Linked DNA regions of Homo sapiens. The protein of the gene in region 3 interacts with the protein of the main gene of each other region in a pairwise test. Each region holds a gene or a part of one and is shown on either strand. Other genes may lie near its edges. The genes, in order: KPNA3, KPNA4 and TMEM276.

What was found.
Region 1: the proteins of TMEM276 (region 3) and KPNA3 interact in binary tests that used the Homo sapiens proteins (3 or more experiments, as listed by UniProt).
Region 2: the proteins of TMEM276 (region 3) and KPNA4 interact in binary tests that used the Homo sapiens proteins (3 or more experiments, as listed by UniProt).

The regions. Positions count from the first base shown.
Region 1 is NC_000013.11:49,705,654-49,712,815, reverse strand, and holds part of KPNA3 (importin subunit alpha-4), read left to right. Parts: intron 1-1,793; coding exon 1,794-1,925; intron 1,926-3,115; coding exon 3,116-3,244; intron 3,245-6,443; coding exon 6,444-6,548; intron 6,549-6,646; coding exon 6,647-6,718; intron 6,719-7,032; coding exon 7,033-7,162. UniProt on the Homo sapiens protein: Functions in nuclear protein import as an adapter protein for nuclear receptor KPNB1. Binds specifically and directly to substrates containing either a simple or bipartite NLS motif.
Region 2 is NC_000003.12:160,520,572-160,527,571, reverse strand, and holds part of KPNA4 (importin subunit alpha-3), read left to right. Parts: intron 1-1,464; coding exon 1,465-1,634; intron 1,635-1,727; coding exon 1,728-1,772; intron 1,773-5,661; coding exon 5,662-5,793; intron 5,794-7,000. UniProt on the Homo sapiens protein: Functions in nuclear protein import as an adapter protein for nuclear receptor KPNB1. Binds specifically and directly to substrates containing either a simple or bipartite NLS motif.
Region 3 is NC_000008.11:144,463,189-144,470,274, reverse strand, and holds TMEM276 (transmembrane protein 276 precursor), read left to right. Parts: upstream 1-4,782; 5' UTR 4,783-4,922; exon of another isoform or gene 4,923-5,178; 5' UTR 5,179-5,373; coding exon 5,374-5,466; intron 5,467-5,662; coding exon 5,663-6,148; 3' UTR 6,149-6,450; downstream 6,451-7,086. Other genes in the region: kinesin-like protein KIFC2, read right to left, coding at 628-785, 896-1,004, 1,441-1,550, 1,625-1,739, 1,869-1,946, 2,288-2,416, 2,496-2,561, 2,645-2,790 and 4 more; TMEM276-ZFTRAF1 (uncharacterized protein LOC157542 isoform 1 precursor), read left to right, coding at 5,374-5,466, 5,663-5,815.

The DNA.
Region 1 (7,162 bases), on a different chromosome or scaffold from region 3:
AGTGGTTACCTTTATTCTTACACCTTTTTAATGCTCTCTTACTATCTGTTTTGACAGTTTTAAATGATATATTTTTTTACTTCTGTCTCTTACCTGTGCAATGATGCATGAGCTTATTCTATTTTCTCTTCTTGCCTCAACCTCCCATTTTTTAATCTGATTCTAGACTTATCTATTTTGCCAAATTTGGAACATATTTCTTCATATTTTTTTCAGCTCCGCCTTTCCTTGTAGGGTCTCTGAAGACACAAATATTAGATCTATTGTTATTGTGCTGGAAGTTCCTGAGAGTTAATTTCTGTTTAATCTTTTTTTTTTTCTGTTATTCAGTTTGGATGATTTCTATTGATGTATCTTTGGGTTCATTTATTTTTTTTTCCCCCTTCTATCATGTCGGGTTTTTTTGCTGAGAATTCCCACTTTAAATTTGTTTCAAATGTGTTCATAATTGTTCACCAGTGCATTTTTATGATAGTTACTTTAAAATCTTATCAAGTCCTTGTCAGATAATTCCAATATGTGTGTCATCTCAATATTGGCATCTGTTGACTGTCTTTTCTCTTTTGAGAATTTCCTGGATCTTGGTATGAAGGGTTATTTTCCATTGTAGCCTACACATATTGGTGTTATGCTTTGAGACCCCTGTTTCTAGGTAAATCTAGTTACTGTTACTGCCAGGGTGGGCAGTAGCCAGACTTTGTTCTCAGACCCAGCATCTGCAGACACCTCCAGCAGGGAGGCCTCCTCACTTCCAGAGTGGGAAATGGGCTGGTAGGTGGGCTCAGCTCTTAGGCCCAGCTTCTGTCCTCTCTTTTACACAGTCTTGAGGCAAGAGGTCCAGACAAAAGCTAGAATTTAATTTTTTCTCCTCTTACAGATAATGGAAATTTTTAGTGTTCTCTGACTCTTAGTAATGCTGAAGGGGTGTGGGTTATATGTGTAGTTCTATTTTATTTATTCATCTATATCCTTTTTTGAAGGGTATGTGAATTCAGGTGCCTGCTATTATTTTAGGGCAAAAAGATGTGATGTCTTCAATTTGGATGACCTAATAGGAAACATCTTGATTTTGCATAAGCTACAACCAGTGCTTATATTCCTCTGTGACGACACCAAGCAATGCCACATACAAGATCTTTGACCTTGAATGAATCACCAGATCGCTAAGCCTGTTTTCTTCTATGTAGTTGCAAAGTTAGGATAGGCCTAGGGCATGGTTTATACTCCAGGTTTATACTTCAGTTGGGGACACATTTCAGGAGATTTTCAAACAGTTTTTTCCCCAGATGAAGTTAAAGTGCCAAGTCATTTCTTTTATTGGTTTACTTTAGTAGCCTGAAAAATTGTATTGCTAAATATGTTGGAAAACCAGTAGAGTAAATAGATGACCTTTCTGTTCTCTTCTGAACTTGAAACAGTATGGTGTGTTGGCCTCATTCTTGTAAATAGTGTTTTTCTGTGGGATTATTAGGTAGCTAATTTGTGAGGGCAGGGAGAATTACTTTTCTGCCTGTTTTTAAATTCATCTGTCTGATACATAAATGCAGAAGTTGGAATAGAAGTTTTCCCAGACTTCTGTGTCTCATTTTCTGTGAAGAATGATCTGAGGTAGGCACTGAAAGAAAGATAAGGTACTTTCTACTTAATAGATTAATCAGCTAAGCAGATATTTTTGCCACTAAGCTAAAACTTGAAATTTGGTTACTTTTTCTGTCACTACTCCTGAGGTGTGTTGAACAAGTAAAGCATTCAAACAAATATGTAAAATGGTTTTTCTTTTGTGTTTCCTGTAGATTCTTGTAGACACTGTTTGGGCTCTGTCATACTTGACAGATGGAGGTAATGAACAGATACAGATGGTTATTGATTCAGGAGTTGTGCCCTTTCTTGTGCCCCTTCTGAGCCATCAGGAAGTCAAAGTTCAAGTAAGTATTTTTAAATTTTTCTTATTTGTATACAGTTGTGTTTGCTATAACCAGTTAACTTGTACAGCTAGGCTTTAATTCTATCTGTAAGTGCTTATCTTCCACATTTCTTCTGCTAGTCCCTGAGCCTGATTTTGTTGATTTCCAAATCTTTATCTCACCCAGTTTCTTTGCTGAGTTCCACACTTGTATAGCCAATTGTTCTTGACCCTTTATACATATCATCTAAGAACTCCTTCAAGCTTTCCGTGGTTAACTAGACAGAAATGAAACGATCATCTCCCACAAACCTGCTCTTCTTCCTTGTCTACCTTCAGTGAACAGCATGGCCTAAGCTAGAAATTTTGATTCCTCCTTGCAATTCCCATTCCATTACAAAATCATTTCAATTCTTCTTATATAGGTTCAAATCTGTCTCTCCTTATCTATCTAGAACAACAGATTTAGTTCAAGACTCTATCTTTCCCCCAAATAATTGCAATAACCTAATTGCATTTCTTCTTTCTCTCTCCCACTCTAATTAGGGGTAGGCACTTATTAGATCTGTTCATCCTGCTTTACCAAAGTGACTTTCTAGGTGGAAGTGTGTGCCCATTCCAGGCGTTTATTAAAATATTATATATATTTTTGAGATGGAGTCTTGTTCTGTCGCCCAAGCTGGAGTATGGTGGCGCGATCTCTGCTCACCGCAGCCTCTGCCTCTCAGGTTCAAGTGATTCTCCTGCCTCAGCCTTCAGAGTAGCTGGGATTACAGGCATGCACCATCACACCAGCTAATTTTTGTATTTCTAGTAGAGATGGAGTTTCACTATGTTGCCCAGGCTGGTCTTAAACTCCTGACCTCAGGTGATCCCCCCCGCCTCGGCCTCCCAAAATGCTGGGATTATAGGCATGAGCCACCATGCCCAGCCTTAAGAAACTGGACTTCTTCTAAAATTTTAATTTCCTTTTATTTTTTGAATCTTTTTCCAACCAATTTTCACACAATTTTTTTTTTTCATAAAGTTTCAGTTTTTCACAAGAGACTATTTAAAATTCAGAATAGCTCTCAGACTGCTTGGTGCTTTGTGAAAGGATGAAATAAGTGTTATTTATGCCTTGCATTTTTACTTTTTCTCAGGATTATGAAAAATATAGAATTAGTCTTATAAGCAAATAAATTTATAGAAAACATTTTATCCCCACCCTAGACAGCAGCCCTCAGAGCAGTTGGCAACATAGTGACTGGCACCGACGAGCAGACCCAGGTTGTTCTCAATTGTGATGTCCTGTCACACTTCCCAAATCTCTTATCACACCCAAAAGAGAAGATAAATAAGGTAAGGCATATAATGTCCTCATTATGCTATTTCTTTCTGTGTCTCATTTTTAACTGTCTCCTTGTTTCTATTGCTACTTGTATGTTTTTCTTAAAAGCCACTGCAGCGAAGATGAGAATTATTTTAAATCACCTCTGCAAATGTTTTTCTTCAACTTTTTTTTTTTTTTTTTTGAGACAGAGTCTGTCTGTTGCCTAGGCTGGAGTGCAGTGGCACGATCTCGGCTCACTGCAACCTCTGCCTCCTGGGTTCAAGCGATTCTCCTGCCTCAGCCTCCCGAGAAGCTGGGACTACAGGTGCCCGCCACCACGCCCAGCTAATTTTTGTATTTTTAGTAGAGATGGGGTTTCACCATATTGGCCAGGCTGGTCTCGAACTCCTGACCTTGTGATCCGCCTGCTTCAGCCCCACAAAGTGCTGAGATTACAGGCGTGAGCCACCGCGCCCAGCCTTTTTCAACTTTTAATCGCTTCTGGTAGGTGCTGCCCTGGTCATCACAGAGTAAAAAACATTTTTAGACTACCTGTGTTTCTATTTAAGTAGACTGAGCATAGCAACAATCATTAAATTAGTAGCCGCTTGAAAGTGCAGACAAAATCTGCCATTTGAATGGGCTGGTATTTTTTTAAACAAACCGATCATAAAAATTTTGATCTCCCAGCAAAATTAGTTTGGACCCAAAGACGAGGTGCCTAAATTCAAGGATCATAAAAAATTACTCTTTTTAAGATTTCAAGCTTCATAGACAAGTTTATTATTAATTGTGTAATATGTACTTACTAGTATGTAATAAGTCTTCATGCCTGGCTTATTTCATCTAGCATGTTTTCAAGGTTCATTCATTTTGCAGCATGTGTCAGAACTTTATTCTTTCTATGGCTGAATAAATATTCCATTGTATGTATACACCACATTTTGTTTTTACATTCTTCTGTTGATGGACACTTCGGTTGTTTCCACCTTTTCACTATTACGAAGAATGCTGCAGTGAACATTGGCATACAAATACCTATTTGAGTTCCCGCTTTCAATTTCTTTGGATATATAACTGCAAGTAGAATTGCTCGATCATATGTTAATTCTGGGTTTAGCTTTTTGAGGAACCACCAAACCGTTTTCCATTGCAGCTGCACTGTTTTACATTCCCACCAGCAGTGTTACTAGAATTCTAATTTCTCCACATCCTAGCCAACGTTTATTTTCTGTTAAAAAAAATTACTGACAATCCTAGTAGATGTGAAGTGGTGTCTCATTGTGGTTTAAATTTACGTTTAGTTGGCCAGGCATGGTGGCTCATGCCTGTAATCCCAGCACTTTGGGAGGCCGAGGCGGGCAGATCACGAGGTCAGGAGATTGAGACCATCCTGGCTAACACAGTGAAACCCCGTCTCTACTAAAATTACAAAAAATTAGCCGGGTGTGGTAGCAGACGCCTGTAGTCCCAACTACTCAGGAGGCTGAGGCAGGAGAATGGCATGAACCCAGGAGGTGGAGTTTGCAGTGAGCCAAGTTTGTGCCACTGCACTCCAGCCTGGGCGACAGAGCAAGACTCTGTCTCAAAAAAAAAAAAAAAGGAAAAAAGAAAAAGAAATAAATTTACATTTAGTTTACTAAAGTTTTATCTGCCTAATATACTACCATCACCCAAACCCAGCAGAACTGATCATTTCTTCTTCGTCATCATAACTATATTTGTATAGTTGCTTGAGTATAATTTGACTGTTGGGTTCTTATAGAAAAGTATGGTGTCAAAAAACACATTTTATAGATACATTTGTTCCAGTGAAGACAAAGAAGCCAGAGACTTTCAGACTCTGGGCCAGTTACTTTTACTAAAGAAATTTTTAACAATATAGGTGATTTTTTTTTTTTTAGCTAAATGAATATATTCCATAATTGGAAACAACTGAGAAGTGAGGAAGCTGGGCAGAAGTCAGCAGAGAAAGGTTCCGGCCTGTGATGTAGTATGCTTTTAAGTGAGGGTATCGTGGGGGGTAGAGGAAAATTTCATAGAAATGCCATCTCAACTTCAGCAAGCAATTAGTTACTTCAAAAATTTTTTGCCTTGAAAATTTGTTACTTGCATTTTGAGACTATCATAGGACCCTGGAAGTAGAAGTTACCAACTTGATTTTCTTCCCTCAGCATTTCTGTTTGAAACTTTTTAAATCTACAAAAAATGTGCAAGAATAGTATAGTGAACACCCATGTACTCTAAACACAGATTCAGCAATTATTAACAACTTACCACAGTTGGATGGCAAAACAAATTCATTTGTGGAAGAGGAAGATACACATGTGATACTAACCTGTAAACAGCTCACAGACGTGTTTATGACTTATAAATCCCTTAGTTTTAGAATATTTATGTTATATAGACCCATGCTAGACTAGTTAGATGGTTAATTTTTATGGAATACTTGAATGACTATATCTTGTGAGTAAATATTTTTTAAAATTAAAAAAGAAATCACCTTTATTAGAAGTAGTTTTTAAGTAGTTTTAGAAATTCAGTTGTATAGTGGCTGGGCGCGGTGGCTCATGCCTGTAATCTCAGCACTTTGGGAGGCCTAGGCGGGTGGATCACGAGGTCAGGAGATCGAGACCATCCTGGCTAACACGGTGAAACCCCGTCTCTACTAAAAATAGAAGAAAATTAGCTGGGCGTGGTGACAGGTGCCTGTAGTCCCAGCTACTCGGGAGACTGAGGCAGGAGAATGGCGTGAACCCGGGAGGCGGAGCTTGCAGTGAGCCGAGATCACGCCACTGCACTCCAACCTGGGCGACAGAGCAAGACTCCGTCTCAAAAAAAAAAAGAAAAGAAAAAAGAAATTCAGTTGTATATTTATTTCTGTCTTTTAGAGGAAGCTAATGCACAGACATGTAAGCTCCATGAATAAAGATTTCTGTTTTGTTCATTTCTATAAAATCACCATTTCCTAGAATAATGCCTAGCTTATAGTAGGCCTATATATTAATGAATGGATAAATGCCAGGTTATTGGAGCCCAAATATAATTAATGGAAATTTCCTTATAACTTGTTTAAAATGGAAGATTTTGTATACCTAATCACTTTTTAGGTGCAGTCTCTTTAACGTAATTCAGGTGATTTTGTTATTGTCTATATAAAATATATTAGAAAGACATTAAAGGTATTATTTTTCAAATAAAGGTGCCCTATATTTTGTTCAATTATAGGAAGCAGTGTGGTTCCTTTCCAACATAACAGCAGGCAACCAGCAACAAGTTCAAGCTGTAATAGATGCTGGATTAATTCCTATGATAATTCATCAGCTTGCTAAGGTTGGTCATATTATGAGTTCACCGTGTCTGTTAATCTGTTAATAACCAAGACTTTTTGGATAAAGAGTCCATTTTATGATCTCATTTTTAACCTTCAGGGGGACTTTGGAACACAAAAAGAAGCTGCTTGGGCAATCAGCAACTTAACAATAAGTGGCAGAAAAGATCAGGTGAGTTTGAAAACCTGTAACTGTCATGATTGTTAATACTGGAAAGCATGCTGCTCTCTTATGTTTCGTAGTTGCTGACTGTATTGTGTTCTTTTTGGGGAAAAGATAATTATTATTATTTTAAGAGATGGAGTCTCACTATGTTGCCCAGGCTAGAGTGCAGTTGCTATTCACAGGCATGACCATAACGCACTACAGCCTCCAACTCCTGGGCTCAAGATAGCCTCCTGCCTCAGCCTTCCATGTAGCACGACACCCTACTGGGAAATAGATAATTATATAAATAAAAATATTTCTTCTCTTTTGTTGTCTAGGTTGAGTACCTTGTACAGCAGAATGTAATACCACCGTTCTGTAATTTACTGTCAGTGAAAGATTCTCAAGTGGTTCAGGTGGTTCTAGATGGTCTAAAAAACATTCTGATAATGGCCGGTGATGAAGCAA
Region 2 (7,000 bases), on a different chromosome or scaffold from region 3:
TAAACCAATAATTTTTCTCCGTAATGACAGTTCTGAGAAGAGTCTAAAATGAAATTTTTTCTCTCTTGCAGACTTCAGTACATTAGAATTTAGTAATGTATAAAATATAGTAATATTATTTCCTGTCACCATGAATCAACAAGACATAACCATAGCCTTTTGACAGTCTGGTTAAATATTTAACACTGTGATTACTATAACTTTCAGGTTCTCTCTGATAAATAATTGTAAGGAAAATAAAGACAATTCTGATATTTCAAGGATTTGTTTTTTTAACTAGAGCCTAAACTCAAAAATTCAAAGAACTATTCTCCAGTAAAGGATGGAAAAAATCTGAATTGTATTGTGCCCCAGTATAGCTCAGAGACCTAACAGTTATGAGTGGGGGCTGAGGTACTGTTTGTAGGGGTATTGCTAATCTAGTGAAGGAGAATGATTCTAAAGATTATTTTTGCCAAATTCTTTATTCTTGCATGGAAATAATCATTGTTGCTTTGATATGCCATCTCTTTATTGCCCTTATACAGGGCCAACATGAAAGTAAAGAGTGGTTATGAGTTTTTAAGGGAGAATTTCTCTGTAAACCATTCTTGACATTGGGTTTATACTATTAGGAATGCTATTGTTTCTATATCCAGACTCCCTCACTCTTTTGCTTTTATACCAAATGTTAGATTTAGAGCTATTATACAGCATCTTGATCTTTCATTTTTTTATTCCAGTGACATTCCGTAATTAACATGAATATAAAGATGCAAAAAGAACAAACATTTTATCTCCAGATATTATAGTGCAAGGGAAGGTGCTTTCACTTATGGTAACATTTCAACATGGCTTCATATTAGAAACTGCAGTGATGCTTCAGATACAGAAATTAAACTTGGCAGTTCTCTGCAGCAGTGGTTCTCAAACCTTAGCATGCAATCAGGACTACATGGGGTGCTTGTTAAAACACAGAATTCCAAACCCATAGAGTTTCTGCTTCAGGAGGCCTGAGCTAGAGCCCAATAATCACATTGAGAACCACTATTCTAGCACTGGTTCACCCTTTTCTTCTGACATAGTTTTCTAAGTGTATAGAGTAATTTATAGTTCATAACCTTGATGCTCTGATACGGGATCATAAGTACAAATTCAACAAATATTTTCTTGATACATCTTTTTTATCACATGAAAGTTTGTTAAACCAAGAGTATTGTTGAGAGAGAAGTTAAAAGCAGCAGTTTAATTAAGTGAGCAGCAAAATGCTGAAGATGGGAATAATGTGCAAAAGAATACCTTATCACTTTATGTTGCCTCTCTTGGCTCAGAGACCTTGAATGTGAGCCTGCTTGTTATTGTCTAAAACTGAACAGTGTATCTGGATAAAATACATGAAGCAGCATATTCCCAGTGCTTTGTGTTTTCTGAAAATGCTTACTGTCAGTATGTTTTATTGAGTAAATTAATCCTTTTTTTCTACAGGTGATGGGCCCCAGTGTAGAGATTATGTCATAAGTCTTGGAGTTGTGAAACCTTTACTTTCCTTCATAAGTCCATCTATTCCTATAACATTCTTAAGAAATGTTACTTGGGTTATGGTCAACTTATGTCGCCACAAAGACCCACCACCACCAATGGAAACCATTCAGGAGGTAAACACTTTTAAAAAAAAATTAAAAGAGATACCATTATATATATATTTTTTATTTGTGTATGTTTTTAAATCTACATATTTCTCTCCTCAGATTCTTCCAGCCCTTTGTGTTTTAATTCATCACACAGATGTAAATGTGAGTAAATGTGTCCTATTATATATTTATGTATGTATGTATGTATTTCTAGGGCTTCCCCTGTGACATAGGGGAGAAATATTATACTAACACATTGTGTCAGCATACTATCAGATTTTCCCATTTCAAGAGTTATTTTATATTAGATTAGTTATTTTATAATATTTTAATATTTACTCTATGTTTATCTATATCACAAAATATAATACCAGTTAAGAAATCAAGCATAACTGTTATTTTGGTGTGGACAATATTGTATGTATGTGTATATATTAGTGTTATAAAAACTGACATTAAAAGTTTTTAAAGTTGCCAGATAGTGGTGATTTCTCTTACTAAGATCATGTCTTTAATTGTTCTTGTGCTTTTTACAGAAGGTCATTTTGACAGTTTGGCCAATGAAAGCACACACAAATAGTGCTATTTTTGTTTTTTGAAAGATGAAAAAGGAAAATGTTTGTGCATGGATTTGTATTCATATACACATACCAAACCATGGACATCAATTGCCCTTTAATTCCATTTTTATTCTATTTCTCAGTTACAGTGACTGGCAGTGGCTTCATTTATCAAGATAACTTGATTATCCAAACAACAGGAAAAAAAAATCAGTGCAGGCAAGATTTTAAACATAGCAAATATATTTTGCTTATTTTTACTAACACAGATGGCAGAGGAAAAAGCAACTCAGGGAGTATGAATGAGGTGGAAAACTGCCCTGAGTGCTTGTAAAAGCCAGACCAGCCTTTGGTGTGTTAGAGAAACCAGGAATATAATGGGTAAGGGAAAACACATGAATGAAATGTTTAGCAACAATCAGGAACTCATGTGGTTCTTTAAAAACAGTTTGGCATGGTGACCAGTGTTGGACAAGCTGCTTCATTTCTTTACAATTTAAAGGCCTATGCCTTTTGGCCAGAATTTAATTTGTATGGAACAAATTAAAATTAGAATTTTACTGTATCAAACAGTGACATAATATATAAAATTCATTAGATGAACATGATCTCTGTGGTAGAGTTTTTGTTTGTTTTTAGCCCCAGATAGTTTAGGATCTTAAAAAATGTGTAAGTAATTTTTGGTTTTGGCTCCTTAATAGCCAAGTTCTTTGATTAAATTGTGAATTTCAATATTTTGCTTTGAAAGATTTACAAGAGGCCAGGTGTGGTGGCTTATGCCTATTGTCCCAGCACTTTAGGAGGCTGAGGCAGGAGGATCACTTGAGTGCAGGAGTTCGAGACCAGCCTGGGCAACATGACGAAACCCTGTCTCTATGAAAAATACCAAAAAATTAGCCAGGCATAGTGATGTGCACCTGTAGTCTCAGCTACTCAGTGGCTGAGGCAGGAGGATCTCCTGAGCTGGGGAGGTCAAGGCTGCAGTGAACTGTGATCATGTCACTGCACTGCAGCCTGAGTGACAGAGCAAGACCCTGTCTCAAAAATAAATAAATAAATAAATAAATAAAACGATTGGCAAGAAAGATTTAACTTCAAAGTTTATACCTCTACTAGAAAACAAGACATCTTGGTTGACTTTATTTAGAGATAGATTGTGTTCTTTCCACCTATTTACTCCAATCTAGATGAGACTGTGACTCCATTTTCTTGCCTTTGATGTATCTTGAAGAATTTCTCAAGCCTGTTTACATTGTTCTTTTTAGTAACATGATTAACAAATAATATTGCTTACTAAATAATGTGTTAGAAGTTTGATTTGAATTATGATTTTGATCTGAGCATATTAGTGACATGTCCTTTAAAAACATGTATCTAGCTTTTATATACAGTTATGAGCAAGTAACTTGAAATTTTTGGCCTATGTCAACAAATTTTAGCATATGTTAATATTCCAGAAAAGAAACTCAGTTACATTTGCAAATTGAAATTTAGGTTTTTTCACATATATTGATACCATTTTTTTATGTGAATTCTTTTTTTTTTCTTTTTGAGACAGAGTCTCGCACTGTTTCCCAGGCTGGAGTGCAGTGGCATGATCTCCACTCACTGCAACCTCTGCCTCCTGGGTTCCAGCGATTCTCCTGCCTCAGCCTCCCGAGTAGCTGGGTTTACAGATGCCCGCCACCACGCCTGGCTAATTTTTTTGCATTTTTTAGTGGAGACAGGGTTTCACTATGTTGGCCAGGCTGGTCTTGAACTCTTGACCTCGTGATCCACCCACCTTGGCCCCCCAAAGTGCTGGGATTGCAGGCGTGAGCCACCACACCCAGCCTGTGCGAACTCTCATTTGATGTCTTCTTTTTACATTAGAAATATCCTTAGAGCTTTCTTGAATTTCCTAAGAAACAATGGCAAAGCATTATTTTCACCTTTTAGGAGTTTCGGGGTGTCTTTTTGGTTTTTTTTATCTTATTTTTTTATTTTCTCTTGGGTGTCCTAAGCATAACATTAGTTTACAGTTTTACGATTTTTTTAAAGTCAGGGTCATAAAAACAAGAAAAAATAAACAATGCCGAATTGTTTCTGTTTTTCATAGAGACGGGGTTTCACCGTGTTGCCCAGGCTGGTCTGTAACTCCTGGGCTCAAGCAGTCCACCTGCCTTGGTCTCCCAAAGTGCTGGGGTTACAGGCGTGAGCCACTACTCCCTGCCTAGTTTATTGTTTTAAAGGTTTTACACTTCTCCAGCTTGTCTTGACACAGAGTTCATATTCTGGAAAGGCTTTGGAAGTAGTTTTAGGCACAATTATTATTCCCATGTCTTTGTCAATAATTTGTGTATTTATTTGCAGCAGTTACAGTTGTTTGTCATACTGCCCTTTGGTCATAACTTCTAATTAGGACCTAACGTACTAGGAAAGATCAAACACATGGCCTGTTGTACTTAAAGATGTAATCGTTAAAAAAAATGGTAGGCTACTTAGTAGAAGTTGATTACACAGGCTTTTTTTTTTTTTTCATAAGTAGCAGCTGTAGTGAAGTACGTATTTTTTGTTTTAATTACAGGTCTCACAGATTGACCTATGATTATTTTAATGTCTTGATCTGCAGCTGTAGGGGACTTCCACTATTTAAGAAGTTGCTGGCCGGGCGCAGTGGCTTACGCCTGTAATCCCAGCACTTTGGGAGGCCGAGGCGGGCGGATCATGAGGTCAGGAGATCGAGACCATCTTGGCTAACACGGTGAAACCCCGTCTCTACTGAAAAATGCCAAAACTTAGCCAGGCGTTGCGGCATGCGCCTGTAGTCCCAGCTACTCGGGAGGCTGAGGCAGGAGAATGGCATGAACCCGGGAGGCGGAGCTTGCAGTGAACCGAGATCGCGCTGCTGCACTCCAGCCTGGGCGACAGAGCGAGACTCCGTCTCAAAAAAAAAAAAAAGTTGTCTCCAGTTCTGTAAGGCAAAACAAACTGGTTGGAAAAGATTAAAGTATTTTATACTACAATATGAATACTTGGGTTATTGGCTTTAGGCATATCTACATGGTACTTACAATACTAGAGAACTCCTTGAATATATTCATCTAGCCCAGATGTTTTGAACAACTGTGCATGTTGGATACATGTAGTCTTTCCAGCTTTATACATGAGCCACAATGTTTTTGGACCTGTTATCCCTCAGCCTTTGGGAAAGAGAATGTCTTTTTCTCCTGTTTTATGAGCTGTGTAGTGTGCGTGTGTATCTTAGTGAACTAAGATTGGATACTAATCTGGGATCAGAATCCTGAATATGGCTAAAAGATGTACGTCTTAGTACAGACATTTATAGATGATGATGTTTAATACCGTAGCGATCAGATTCCAATGAATTAAACTGAGAGAAGAAAAGAAGGAAGAAGGTAGTTGAACAATTTTAGAATGGTTGTTTGGTCAAGAATTACTAAAATGAGAAAATATTTAAAAGTTGTTTGAATTTTTATTTTATTCATTAGATACTGGTAGACACAGTCTGGGCCCTCTCTTACCTTACTGATGCTGGCAATGAACAAATACAGATGGTAATAGACTCTGGAATAGTTCCTCATTTGGTTCCTCTGCTCAGCCACCAGGAAGTTAAAGTTCAGGTAAGTTTGTTCTTAGTTAAATTATAAGTATTTCTTACCACTAATTGCTTTAAGCATGGCATTCAAAGATGGACAATTTCAGTAGTTTAAAGTATATTCTTAGCATAACAACAAATCTGTGATGGAAAGGGGAAAATAAATAATAAGATGCCATTGTAGATTACTAATTTCTTTTTTTAAGATGGGGTCTCACTGTCACCCAGGCTGGAGTGAGGTGGCGTGATCTCAGCTCACTACAACCTCCACTTCCTAGGTTCAAGGAACATTCTCCCACCTCAGCCTCTTGAGTGGTTGGGATCACAGGCACACACCATCATGTGTAGCTAATTTTTTTCTATTTTTGATACAGTCAGGGTTTTGCCATGTTGGCCAGGCTGCTCTTGAACTCCTGGCCTCAAATGATCCTTCCACCCCAGCCTCCCAAAGTGCTGAGATTACAGGTGTGAACCACCATGCCTGGCCGGATTACTGATTTTTAATGTAGACCAGGGAAGTTCATTATAGCAACATGCATGGCATCTGAAACAAGTATTGACAGACACTTATTTTTTCCTACTCCTCTTCTTTTTGTTCTTCCTCTTTCACTTCCCTACTTCTTTTTTTTTCTTCCTTGCCAACCATCCTTATTTACTCACCTGGCAAGTTTAGTTAACTCTTATCTTCATTGGTGCTGAAATAAGGGTACTCTACTGAAATGTGCTGTTTAGGGACTTTCTAAATTGTTGCTTTTCACTTATTTAAATTTATTTTTTATTGTTTAAATTCTTTCACATAATATTTATCCCAAAGAATTTGCATTTAGAAAGAGCCAAAAACAGAGTGTGAGAAGTTCTCAGAGATATAAGCAGTAGCTGTTAAGCTACAGTTGTAATGGGGGAGACGCAGCAAGCTCCCTCTACCTTTCTGAGGTAAATAGTATATTTTAATCTGCTAATGGCTTAGAATCTGTAAAGTACAATAATCGCATAAGAGAAACCGTTAGTCTGTAGCCTAAGTCATTATGCCTGAACATCAAAATAAACTGTGTGGAGCTGTTTTTAATTTCTCCTGCTCAACCCCTGGAGATTTCTGTTTCAGAAAATATTTCTTAGAAACTTGAGCTTTAAAATGCTCTTCAGGTGATACTGATACATAGTCAGATTAGAGACCCTGTACCTTAAAATTAAAGCACTTTAAAGAAGGAACACTTAGCTAAATACAGAAAGAA
Region 3 (7,086 bases):
AAGAGGCAATCAGGGTGACCCTGGCCACCTGCTGGGCAGTCGTCCCCCTGTCCCTGTGAGGCTGGCAGGCAGCCTGGTTGGGAGTCGCTGCCATTCTGCCCCTTACCTAGTCTCCCCTGGCTCTGAGCTGCCATCTCCTTAGCTATGGGAGCTGTAGCAGCAAAGGGCATGTGCAGATGAAAACGTGTGTGAAAGTGGGGTGGGCTGGGGCTGAAGCCCCTGCTTTTCCACAGGTGTCTGGCAGGAAAAGGGTGGGGAAGGAGAGTGGGATCCAGGCAAGGCAGAGAGAGCACACTAAGACTAGAAGGTTGCCTCCTCACCCACGGCCCCCACCACCCACCGCCTGCCTTGGGGCCATAAAGCAATGAGGGGCCCTCATAGCTGGGCAAACCCTGGACCCCAGCAAAGGGGAGTGGGCAGGCAGTGAAGCCTGGGAGGAGGAGGCACCAAGCTGGGCTGCCTGCCCTGCTTCCCAGCCCCCTCGGTTCCCTTTCCTTCCTGGCTAGAGCCCAGCCACCCTCTCTCCTCCAGGTGGACACCCAGACTGGGAAGGGGAAACTGGAGCCTCTCCTGCTCTTCAGGGAACTCTGAAAAAGGGTCAGGATGGCTGCAAAGGCAGGCTGTCACCTCCTCCTGGCTGGCGTCTGGAGGGAAGACCCAGTCTAGGCGGAATCGACGATGGCGCCCCCGGTAGCAGGTGGTGACGGTGCCCCCTGGGCCAGGCTCCACACTCACAAGGCTAGAAGATGTCCCTGGCCTCAGCCGACACAGCACACGGATATTTCCTGCAGTGGGGATCAGGTCAGCATAATGCCTCGCAGACCCTAAAGCACAGAGAAGCTGCACTTCTTCCAGCCGCCCTCCCTGCCCCGCTAGGCTCCCAAGCCTGTCATACCCTTGAGTTCTGGCAGCCGCCCTGGGCATCCGGCTGGGGGCCCTTGCTGCCCCTCAGGGAGCTGAGTGCCAGGCCCTCCAGATGACAGTGCCCCCAAGGCCCAGGACACCTGAGGGAACAGGGATGTACAGAAGGCAAGGGGTCAGCCAAGGAGCTGCGGAGGTGGGGGGTGGGAGGGTCCTGAGAGCAGCAGGGAGCCCCCACAGGCCCGCTCAGCTGTGCTAAGCCACAACTTTCAGTGGCTCTGGGCCCCTGGGGACATCATTGAGTAACCCCAGGATAAAGCCCAGGAATGACAGGCAGGAACACCACATCATCTGTCTCCTCCGTGCTTCTGGGCAATGCTTTAAGAGTTTACTGTCAACCAAGTATGCATAGAATTAAAATAAGGCCCAGAAGTGGAATCCCACCCTGGGTCACACAGAAGCTGTTTGGGTTCCAGAGCCCCACTTATTAGTACAGCCAACTCCCCAGGAACGCCCCCGTCAAAAGAACAGTGAATAGGCTGCCCAGAGAGGAGGGGCTAGGCGGGGAGGGGTCCTGACCTGGCCCCGGGCCTCACTCAGCGAACCCTGACAGCTCTGGGTAAAGGTGCTGACCAAACCTCGGAGGTCCCCGCAGCCCTGACGCAGGCTGGCCATCCGTGCCCGAAGTCCTGGAGAGGGAAGTCTGTTGGAAGGGAAGGCCCAGCCTCCAGGGCCTCCCATGAGCCCCAACCCCAACCCTTACCTGCCAGCTGCCCATGCATCTGCTGTAGCTCACGCCTGCAGTTCTGCTCCGTCTCCTGCTGGAGCTGCTGGAGGGCCCCTTGAAGGCCCTGCAGCTGCACCTCCTGCACCCCCAGCTGCCCCGCCCAACCCCACCCCTGTCACTGAGGAAACAGGCACTTACCAGGCCCTGCCTCAGATAAGCCCCTCCCAAAACCCCAGCCCGCCTCACCCCTGAGCCATGGATCCCTGGGCCCCATGCCCACCTGGGCTCGGAGGGCTTCTGTGGTGTCTTGGGCCTCCTGAAGCCGGCCCTGGAGCTCTAGCAATGCCTCTGCCTCCTCCTGCGGGAGGGTGGGGGCCAGGAGGGACTCAGAGAGGGACGGTCTGTGGTACCATTTCACAGATGGGAAAGTCAAGTCAAGAGGTGGGCAGAGCTGGCTGTGAACCCATGCCTCCCAGCTCCACGCAGACCTCCTTCCCACAGTCCCTCTGCTCTCCTGGGGTCAGCCACTCAGAGGGGCCACGGAGAGGGGGGTCTTCCCATTGGCATCAGCCTCCCTGATGGGGCTGCCCTACACAGACCATCCCGGGAGGTCCTGAGGAGGCTCGGGCCCTGTGGCTGCATGCCAGGTGTGCAAGAGCCCCAGGCTGCAGGAACGGCTGCAGCTCGGGAGCAGAGTACCTGCGGAGCCCTGATGGGGGGCCCGGGGCCCCAGTGCAGCAGGAGGTCCCGCATGAGACTCAGGCTCTGCTTCAGGGCCTCGTTCTCCAGAGTCAGATGCTGAACCCTTTTCTCTGAGTCCGTCGCCCCCTGGTGGAGAGGAAACCTCGGCACTCACCTGAAGCACCCCCTCCATGCCCGGCCCTGCCAGGTCTCCCTGCAGCCTCACCACGCCCAGGCGCAGTCGACCCAACTCCTCCTCCTGCTGTTCCAGCTGCTGCTTCAGCTCCTCCAGCTGGGGAGAAGTAAGAGAGACAGGGTGGACCTCCTTTTTCTGGCGTCCCAGCCGGCAATCCCTTCTGGCTCCAGGGACCTCACCTGTCCCAGGATGAGCTGCTCCAGCCGCTGCCACGCCCTCTGATCCTCCTCCAACTGGAGGGGCTGCTGTCCCTGGGTCTCATCCCCCAGTGGCTCGCCTGGGACTGCGGTGAAGTGGGAAGGGCTTTCTTCTTGGGATGTGGATCCTGGAGTAGGGTGGGCCCAGTTAGCACTGAAGAGGTCTCTAGTCCAAATCTTCCGGAACATGACCCCGAACTCCAGGCCGCCCAGGTTCTACCGGGATTTGCTCCCTCCAGAGTTCTTCTTCAACTTACTGTCCTTTACTCACCATCTGGAGAGGGGGGCCGGACCCGAGGGGCTGGCTGAGTCCCCTGGAGCAGGGCCTGCCTCCCCCTGGGGCTTCGAAGCCATGCCAGAAGGGCCAAGAGCTGACTGGTCACTGTCAACAGTGAGGGGACCTCGCCAGACTGCGAAGGAGACAAGAATCCGAGCAGGGCTGTGAAAGCCAGGAAGGCCGGGGCAGGTGGTACCTGCCAGCAGCCCCCTCCGCCGCGCTCACCTGGCCCAGGTCCGCCGGGCCCCCGCAGCTCTCTTCCGCCCCCAGCTGGACGGAGAGGAACTCGGCGAGGCGCAGTAGGGCCTCTTCCAGGGACACCGCGGCCGCGCGGCCCTCGGCTGCGCCTTCCGACCCATCCTCAGGCTCGGAGCTGGCTGCCGGTCAGGGAGGAGGGCGGGAGACATTTCGGGTCACGTGCTTGAGCCAGGCCTCCGCCCCTCCCTGGGAGGTCCCGGCACCGCCCTCGCACCGCGGGACTCCCAGCCCGCACCTACCGGCCAGGCCGGTCAGCTCGGTCCACAGCTCTGGCGCGGGCAGGTCTGGGCGCCGGCGACCCCGGGGCTTGCGGGCTCTCTAGGGAGGGGGCAGGGGCGCCCCTGAGGAGGGGGGCAGGCAGCCTGCTGGCCCCTTCCCTCCGCGAACCGGGCCGGAGGATTGGGGCCGAAGTCTACGCTTCCAGCATCGGGGCCGAGCCGAGGGTCCTCGGCACGGCCCCGTCGCCCCGCGCCCCGTGCCCGCCCCCGCCCCGGGAACCTCGGCGTGGGGGTGGGGCAGGCGGCGGGAGACGACGGGCTGCACGGCCAGCCCCGCTCACCTGGGCGGGGTCCCCGGGCTCCGCGGCCGCCGCGGCGCCACCATCCCTGCGGAAGAGGCTGTAGAAGATGTAGATGAGCAACGAGTAAAAGGCGTACATGGGAGCGCGGGGCGGCAGAGGGCCCCGCTTCGCGCCGCCCCGCGTCCCCGCGCCCAGACTCGGCGCCCGCCCGCCGCAGTGCCGGTGCGCATGCTCGCGACGGCCGCCCCCACGGCCCGGCTCCCACGGCTGGAAGGCGAGCGCGGGGACGGGGGTACTAGAAACAGGTGCCCGCGGCCGCACCTGGAGACCCGCCGTTTCTCACGGCGCCGCCCGGCGCGCCCCAACCCCTACACCGCGGACACCGGGCTGAGAGCGCCCACGGCTCCCGCGACCCTCCTCTCGGAATCCCTCCCACCCTCCGCGTAGTCCCCCACCGCTCCGGTTTCGCGGAGCCTTCAACACGCCGGGGTTCTCCTTCCTCTCCCTACAGCCCCGCCCATCTCAGCCCCGCCCATCTCAGCCCCGCCCAGACCCCCCCTCCTCGCAGCCCCGCCCAAACCCCGTTCCTTGCAGCCTCGCCCAGGCTCCTCCCCTCTCGGTCCCTCTCAGTCTCGCCCAGACCCCTCTCCTCGCAGCCCCGCCCAGGCCCCGCCCCTCGCAGCCACGCCCAGACCCCCCCATCGCATCCTCGCCCAGGCCCCGCCCCACCCAGGCCCCCTCCCTCTCAGACCCGCCGCTCTCAGCCCCGCCTAAACCTTATCTCCCTCAGCCCCGCCCAGACCCCCCGCCCCTCGCAGCCCCGCCCAGACCCCGCCCCTCGCAGCCCCGCCCCGGCCCTTCTCCCCTCATCACGCTCCTTCCAAACCACTATGCCCACGCACGCACCCACCCAAACAGAGCGTTTTCTGGTCCCCGAGCTCCTCCCGACCCCACCCGCTCCTACGGCCTCCAACCGGCCCCCCCCAGGTCTCGACCCTCTCCCCCAGGCCTCGACCCTCCCCCCCCAGCCGCTCTAGCCCCGCCCGGCCGCTCTAGCCTCCGCTCCTCTCGCTGGTGGAGGTTCCCGACCGCGCTCGCTCCCGCAACTGGGGGCACGGCAGAGGAGGCAGGGCCGACGGCGGTGGGCGGTGCGTTGCGCAGGCTCGGGCCTCCCGCTCGCCGCTGCGTTGGGACCGCGCAGCCCGGTAACTGCGCACGGCTGGCCTCCCGGAGTCCTGCGCCGTCGCTCCTCCTGGACCCGGGTTCCCAGGACAACGCCTCCCGGAACGCAGGGAGCAGGCCGAGGCCGCCGCGTGGGCCTGCAGCGCCTCGCCGCTCTCTCTTCCCCAGGCCCGCACTCCCACTTGGGCTCCAGGGCCCCAGGGCTGACGTTCCCCCCAGCTTAGACCCTGAGTCGTTTTCCCCCGTTTCCCGGCTGAATTAGGTTCTTCTTCTCCACAGGTGTGTGCAGTGGCCTCAGGGATCCGGAAAGTCTAGGACTGAACTTCTCCTAACATCCAGTAATGGGGACCTGGAACCTGGGCTTACTAGAGTGCCGCGCGTAGGGCTCCAGGTCGCTGGCTTCTGCGCTTCCTTCCTCTCCAAAGTTGAGTATCTCCTATCTGTGTCCTCGTACATACTGCCGCCTGAGGTGCCATGGCCCCCAAGCCGGGGGCCGAGTGGAGCACAGCCCTGTCCCATCTGGTGCTGGGAGTGGTGTCTCTGCACGCAGCCGTGAGCACAGCCGAGGTGAGTACACTGGGGCTGAGCAGGGGCGCATCCCCATACCTCCCAAACCCCAAGGACCTAGTTTCCTGAATTAGAGAGAGGTTGGTGGGAAGTGCGTCTAAGACCAGGTCTCCATGGAAGCCCCAAACCCTTTCCTGTTTAAAAGGGTGACCCCGGCCTCTTTTTCCCACGTGTTCTCCCTTCCCTGTGTTGACAGGCAAGTCGAGGGGCTGCTGCTGGCTTCCTGCTCCAGGTCTTGGCTGCCACCACCACGCTGGCCCCAGGGCTGAGCACACACGAAGACTGCCTTGCTGGAGCCTGGGTGGCCACCGTCATCGGCCTTCCCCTTCTGGCCTTCGATTTCCACTGGGTGAATGGGGACCGCTCCTCTGCCAACCTGCTCCTGGGAGGAGGCATGGTGCTGGCAGTGGCTGGCGGCCACCTCGGCCCTGAGGGCCGCTCTGTGGCTGGTCAGGCAATGCTGTTGGTGGTCGCAGTGACCATCCTCATTGTAGCTGTCTTCACGGCCAACACTTATGGGATGTGGGGGGGGGCGATGCTGGGTGTGGCAGGCCTCCTGAGCCGGCTGGAGGAGGACAGGCTGCTGCTGCTACCGAAGGAGGATGTCTGTCGCTGGGCCTTGGCTGTAGGCAGCTGGGCTTACTGCCGGGCCCTGCATACACAGCGCCTCCAGTGGGAGTGACAGTTGGATACAGCCAGGCAGGGTTTCTGCCCTGCCGAACACTTTCCCTCCCACCTGCCTGCTCCTGGCGCCTTCTCCCTAGGGGTAGACTCTTCTGCCTACTGAAGTGGGTTTGCTGCACATTGACTGGTCAGGGGCAGAGTCTGGGTGCTGTCCTTTGGCCACGTGTGGGGACTTGTCTAGACCAGAATGAAAGGGACAGGGTCCCAGACACGTTTGGGGGTCCTGATTCTGGGCTGGACACGGTTGTGGATCCAGAGAAGAGGCCTAGTCTCCAATAAATCTTAGGAATTTTGCAGGAATATGAAAACTGCCCATTTTTGAGAGGGATTGAGGGATCTTTCAGTGAGCTTCCTAAGGCCCCTCAGGACAGTAGTCAGTTACCCTGACAGGGTATGTGCTGGAACTAGGATGGGGTCTCATGCAGCCCGGCCTCCTTTTGACTATTGTCAGGAAGACCCCTGGGCTGAGAAGACATAGCCCTGGGCCCTTACTCTCCAGGGACATGGTGGAGTTCCAGATATCCTGGCCTGGCCTGGCAGGTGGCCCTCTGGGGCAGTGACCTTCAAGAACTGAAGAGTAGGGTGGAGGCAGGGGAGGGCTGTACCACAGGCGTTTCGAGAAACGCACATCCTTCCCAGAGCTGATTCGCCCTCCTGTGTACCTCCGGCCTGTGGAAGCCAGCCCTATTCCCTAATACCTTCGTTTTCCTCAGTGGACCCCTTCAGTCTCCAACCCCAGGGTTAGAGGGGGTTCGGACGAGCAGAGGATTAGATTCCGGTGGGTTAGGGGTCTGGAGTCCCCTCTCCTGGAAGTCTCTCCGCTTGCTCCTGTGGAGACCTAAGGGGTCCCGCACCCGACAGAGAGGGGTGGCCGGCGGGATTTTTCACTTGTGTCCTTCCCCTGCGGGGAAGGGGGCGAGAGCCCCTAACACAAGC